Linked DNA regions of Homo sapiens: region 2 is linked to region 1. The links come from fine-mapping of genetic effects on gene expression. Tissue or cell type: whole blood. Region 1 holds a variant in brackets; the other region holds the start of a gene. Each region is shown on its reference strand, or each on the opposite one.

Region 1 (2,914 bases):
AAACTGGACTCCTATCTCTCACTTTGTACAAAAATTAACTCAAGATGGATTAAAGACCTAAATGTAATACCTGAAACTATAAAAATCCTAGAAGAAAACCTAGGAAATTTTTTATGAATTTAAAATAAATTTATTAACATATAATTCACATACAATAAAATTTACTTTATAACAGTATAACACTTTAAAAAGTGTTCCATTTAGTTGTTTTTAGTATAGTCCCAGAATTGTGCACCCATCACAACTGTTTAGCATTAGAATATTTTCATTACCATAAAAACTAACCCTGCACCCATTAGCAGTCACTCCCATTTACCTTCCCCGTGGTGCTGGAAACTACTAGAGGTACATCAAAATGAATGTTCCACCCAGCCTTTTCTAGTGATACTTTCTCCAGCCTCAGGTAGTTTATTCACACACATGTTCAGATCTAAACCCAGTCAAAGGCCCAAGAAAGCCCACCAGAAAATATCTGATATTTCTCTCTGCACAATTTCCTTTTTTCTGGTATTGTCCCAAGAATTCTAGCTTTCTTGGCTTCCCTGGCCAACATGGTGAAACGCGGTCTCCACTAAAAATACAAAAATTAGCTGGGCGTGGTGGTGCACACCTGCAGTCCCAGCTACTAGGGAAGCTGAGGCTTCCCTGGTCTTCAAACATTGTCTCCTCAACTAAAAGAGTTTGCTGGAATATTTTTGATTTTTCCTTTCTACAGTGAAGCCTGGAAATGCTCTCCAGATAGTAGGACTGAAAATAAGAAAGATCATCCCTAAGTTTCCAACCTTGTTGAGGATAGCTGTTTTGCATAGCCTTTTAAAAATAGCTTTGTTCATATAATTCCTATACCATAAAATTCAGTGTAATTTCAGTAAATTCAGTAAATTTAATTCAGAGTCGTAAAATTCTCCCAACTATCTCATTTTGAAACATTTTCATAACCCAAAATCTAGTACCCATTAGCAGTAAGTCATTATTCTACCTTGTCCCCAACCCCTAGGAACAACCCATCTACTTTCTTTCCCTATGGATTTGCCTCTTATAGACATGTCATGTAAATGGAATCATATAATGTGGCCCTTTTATACTAGCTTCTTTCATTTTGCATAATGTTGTATATATATACACACATTATATACATATATACACACATATA[C/T]ACACACACACACACACACACACATATATATATATATATATATATTTTAGACAGTCTTGCTCTGTCACCAAGGCTGTAGTGCATTCGTGCAATCTTGGCTCACTGCAACCTCCACCTCCTGGATTCAAGCAATTCTCATGCCTCAGCTTCCCTAGGAGCTGGAAGTGCAGGTGTGCATCTCCACGCCCAGCTAATTTTTGTATTTTTAGTAGAGATGGCGTTTCACTATGTTGGCCAGGCTGGTCTCGAGCTCCTGGCCTCAAAAGATCCGACCCCCCACCCCCGCCTCCCAAAGTACTGGGATTACAGGCATGAGCAACCATGCCCAGCCCATGTTTTCAAGGTCTGTCCATGTTGTAGCATGAATCAGTACCCTCACAGACAAACCCAGGAGCAATACTGTGCATCCTTTAATCCAATCACGTTGACACTCACTATTAACCATCACAGTTGACTAGAAGTGGCAAGTACTGTCATCTTTATCTAGTTCTTGATCTTAGGAGGAAAGCACTCAGTATTTCACCCTAGAGTATGATGTTAGCTGTGAGGTTTTCATAGACGCCTTTTATCAGGTTAAAAAAGTTTTCAAGCTTTCCCGGCTTGTTAAGTGTTTTATCATGAAAGGGTGTTGAAGTTTGTTTGATGCTTTTTCTTCACCTATCAAGATGATCATATGGTTTTTTACATTTTTATTCTTAATATGGTGTATTACATTGATTTCTATAACTTATGAATATATATTTTACTACCTATTATAAATATATTTACATAGCTGATTTAAAGTCTTTGTTTAGTAATTCCAACATCTGGACTACCTCAGAAACAGTTTCTATCTTTCTGGCTACATTTGCCAGGTATTTTTTTTTTAACTAGATATGGGGTCTCACTTTGTGGCCCAGGTTGGTCTCAAACTACAGGGCTCAAGTGAGCCTCCCACCTCAGCCTCCTAGAGTGCTGGATTACATGCTAGCTTTTGTTGTTGCTTTTTTTAGGAGCAGATTTTCTGAAGTCCTTACACTTCAATTCTGAAAATTCTATCTCCCCATGCTACCTTTTTCAATATCTAAAATCACTTGCTTTGTACATTTTGTCTGGCTTTCCTGATGTTTATTTATTTACTAACTAATGTTCACACTTTATTCCTAGTTCCTTACTTTTTCTTTTTTCCTTTTTTTAACACAGAGTCTTGCTCTTGTCACCCAGGCTGGAGTGCAGTGGCACGATCTCTGCTCACTGCAATCTCCACCTCCTAGGTTCAAGTGATTCTCCTGCCTCAGCCTCCCAAGTAGCTGAGATTACAAGCACACACCACCATGCCCGGCTAATTTTTTTTTATTTTTAGTAGAGATGGGGTTTCACCATGATGGCTAGGCTGGTCTCAAACCCCTGACCTCAGGTGATCCACCAGCCTCGGCCTCCCAAAATGCTGGGATTACAGGCGTGAGCCAGTGCGCTCGGCCTATTTCCTTACTTTTAAAATCTAATATCCTTTTTTTGTGTTCCAGGATCCCATCGAGGATATTATATTATATTCAGTCATCCTGTCTCCTTCGGCTTCTCTTGACTGTGAGTTTCTCATATTTTACTGTTTTTTTTTTTGTTTGATGACCCTGACAGTTTTAAGGAATATTGATGAAATATTTTATAGAATGTCTCTCAGTTGGGATTTGCCTGATTGTTTTGCAAAATCAGACTAGAGTGAATAGGGGCGTATCCATTTATTGTTTACTCCATGTTGTCCCACATGGAAGTTTTCCTGAA
Region 2 (2,914 bases), not on the chromosome of region 1:
TTCCTCCTGGCACGCCTGGAAGGGAGGAAAGGCTTAATGGTCCCGTTCTATGGGTGAGGAAAAGAGGTCTGGGAAGGAGCCCGGCGTGGTGGGGCGGGCCTGTAATCCCAGCTACTCAGGAGGCTGAGGCAGGAGGATTGCAGGATCGCTCTTACCCAGTTTCTTTCTTTCTTTCTTTTTTTTTTTTTTTTGAAACGGAGTCTTGCTCTGTCGCCTAGGCTGGAGTGCAATGGCGCGATCTCGGCTCACCGCAACCTCCGCCTCCCGAGTTCAAGCGATTCTTCTGCCTCAGGCTCCTGAGTAGGTGGGATTTCAGGCCGTGCCACCGCGCCCGGCTAATTTTTTTCTTTCTTTTTTTTTTTTTCAGTAGAGACGGGGTTTCTCCGTGTTGGCCAGGCTGGTCTCGACCTCCTGACTTCAGGTGATCCACCCGCCTCAGCCTCCCAAAGTGCTGAGATTACAGACATGAGCCACCGCTCCTGGCCTCTTACCCAGTTTCTGCACGGAGCTCCTGATGCCTGATGGCCAAGAGGACATAACCCCACCTGTTCTAAGGGCATGGAGTGTATTTTTAGAGTGATTGGACAAAATATGTGCCGAACACCTACGTCAGGTCTGGCGCATGCTGGAGGCTGGGGTTATATCAATGCAAAAGCCATTCCCTGTATTTAACACGTAAATGAATTAGTCTCTTTAACTCTCCCAACGCCCTATAAATTATTTGCTCCATTTTACATATTAAACGCTGTCACGAACTGAGCTGCTGTGTGAGGCCGGGGCCGGACTTATCTTTCTGAAGCACAGAGAAGCGGTTATACGCAGAAGTTTGGGAGAACTGGGTAAGGCCGCACACATGGAAATTGCCAGTTTCGTGGGTCCCAACGTCAATACTGTGGGCAACCTTAGACCGGCTCAAAGCGCAGCTGGGGACGGTGATGAAGTGCAGAGCGTCCACAGCCAGCGACAAGACTGCCAAGCAACTGGCAGCCTGAGTAACGGAGAAAACAACGAAAAAAACGCATTCACCACCTACCAACAAGAAACAAAAAACACGACCACCCCACAGTCAGTCTACTTTTTAGGCGTGAATAAGGTCGGGCAGATCGCAACTCCCAGGCATCCCGCAAAGTAGGCGGGTCACCTTGAGGGCGACCTTTACCCGCTCAAAAATTCGTCTCACATTAGCAGTGAGGATTCGGGCGTCACCCCGAATCGTTATTTTCCTTACTCATAAGTTTAAGGCATAAGGACGTTTTTAGTTTATTTCCTAGGTAATGAATTCTATTCTCATTAGGCGTATGATGACTATCGTAGTTGACTGTTGAGGTCATGATCCAGTTCCATTGAAGTTTGTCTCACTTGTTAATAATGTATTTTGTTGCTTTTCATTTAATTTTTTCCCTCGAGGAAAATAAATAATTCATAATGTGCCGAACTTCCGTATGCAGATGAGCAGCCAGCACCGCGAAGGCTCACGGGGAACGTCCCCGCCCCTTCCGGTTCTTGCCTGCTTTGAGCTGGCTGTCGCGAGAGTTGGTCCGCGGACGCCGGAAGTAGTTCGTCGCTCCCTAGCGGCCGAAGGGGCGGGCTCGCGGGGTCTCGACTGCTTTCGGCTTGCTCGGCGGAGCAAGATGGCGGACATCTCCCTGGACGAACTCATCAGGAAGCGCGGGGCGGCGGCGAAAGGACGGTGAGAGGCCTTTCCTTTCTTCGGGGTTTAGGGTCCTCGGCCTAGTGGAGCTCGAGGCGGGGGAGGTAGCGATCCGGGAGCGACGCGGAGGACCGGGTGCGCCCGCCCCCGACCACAGCCGCGCTCCTCATTGGCCGGCTGCCGCCGTCCCCGCCGTGGCCCCGACCGCCCGCCCACTGGCCGAGGCGCAGTCCCTCTGGCGGCCCTGGGAGGCCGACGGGGCCGCGGCGGGGACAGGGTGCCGCCTCGTGGACCTGAGGGGCTGCCCCCTGGGGCCCCCGCGTTCCGGGGTCCTGGGGTCTCGGCGGCGCAGCCTCCTTGCCTGTGTGGACTGGCATTTGGGCCCCGCTCCGTGATCTCGGCGCTGCCTGGTCTCCACCCATCTTAGAGTTGAGACAACCGAAGTTTAGTAGCGGGGAAGTGACTTGCTCCGACCGCCGAAGCTGAGGCGCAAGCCCAAATCCCCCTGCACGCGGCCCCTGTTAACACTCGCCTCTCTTTGTGCGGCGTTTTAAGTTTTCTGAGCCCTTTCATATACACGATGCCTCATTTAATCTTTTACAGTCCTGTTGTCTGCTAGCTATTCATGTTACCCACCTTTTACTGATGGGGAACTTGAGGCTGGAAGTGGTAGAGTGACTTGCCCGAGGCCACGGAGAACTGAGCGGCGGGCTGAGCGCGATTTAATTGCTGGCTGAGTTGGCCTCCTACATGGGCTTGAAAAACTGGTGTGTTGGGCAGGAGATTGGTTATTTCCTTAGGGAGAAGAAAGTGCTTGAGCTGGCTGAGGAGCCATGGAGGTGATTTGCAGTCATGTCTCCCAAACTTCCCCTAGACCCTTAAATGTTGTTAGTCATTTCAAGCCTTCGTGAGCTGAGTTCATCTGTATGAAGAAGTGAGAACTTTGCCCAATAGTTTCCCAACACACATTAAGTTTAAATGTCTTTGTAAATAGCCAGGATGTAAATATGTTAGATATTGTTTTCTCAGACATTTGTTCTCTCAGCAGATGTTTATTTTTATTTTTATGTTTTTTTTGAGACGGGGTGTTGCTCTGTCGCCCAGGCTGGAGTGCAGTGGTGCCATCTCGGCTCACTGCAACCTCCGCCTCCCCGGTTCCAGCGATTCTCCTGCCTCAGCCTCCCAAGTAGCAGGGACTACAGGTGTGCACCACCACGCCCGGCTAATTTTTGTATTTTTAGTAGAGATGGAAGTTTCACTGTG

The links. PIP is the estimated chance that this variant, and not a neighbour inherited with it, causes the effect.
Region 2: it holds the start of POLDIP3, and the variant in region 1 is fine-mapped to the expression of POLDIP3 in whole blood (TOPMed, PIP 0.94).

The regions. Positions count from the first base shown.
Region 1 is chr9:122,583,126-122,586,039 of GRCh38, reverse strand. OR1L8 (olfactory receptor family 1 subfamily L member 8) reads left to right here and starts at 2,656. Exons shown (of 5, transcript NM_001004454.2): 1 at 2,656-2,719. The variant C/T (reference allele first, on the strand shown) is at 1,154.
Region 2 is chr22:42,613,575-42,616,488 of GRCh38, reverse strand. POLDIP3 (DNA polymerase delta interacting protein 3) reads left to right here and starts at 1,606. Exons shown (of 9, transcript NM_032311.5): 1 at 1,606-1,690. The coding sequence starts at 1,632. RNU12 (RNA, U12 small nuclear) reads right to left here and starts at 1,245; the gene lies at 1,096-1,245. It overlaps LOC124905127 (a long non-coding RNA gene), which reads left to right and starts at 1,710. Exons shown (of 2, transcript XR_007068118.1): 1 at 1,710-2,914. RefSeq lists enhancers at 619-748, 1,399-1,458, 1,539-1,718, 1,211-1,754, 1,755-2,298 and 1 more and silencers at 1,189-1,248, 1,789-2,118.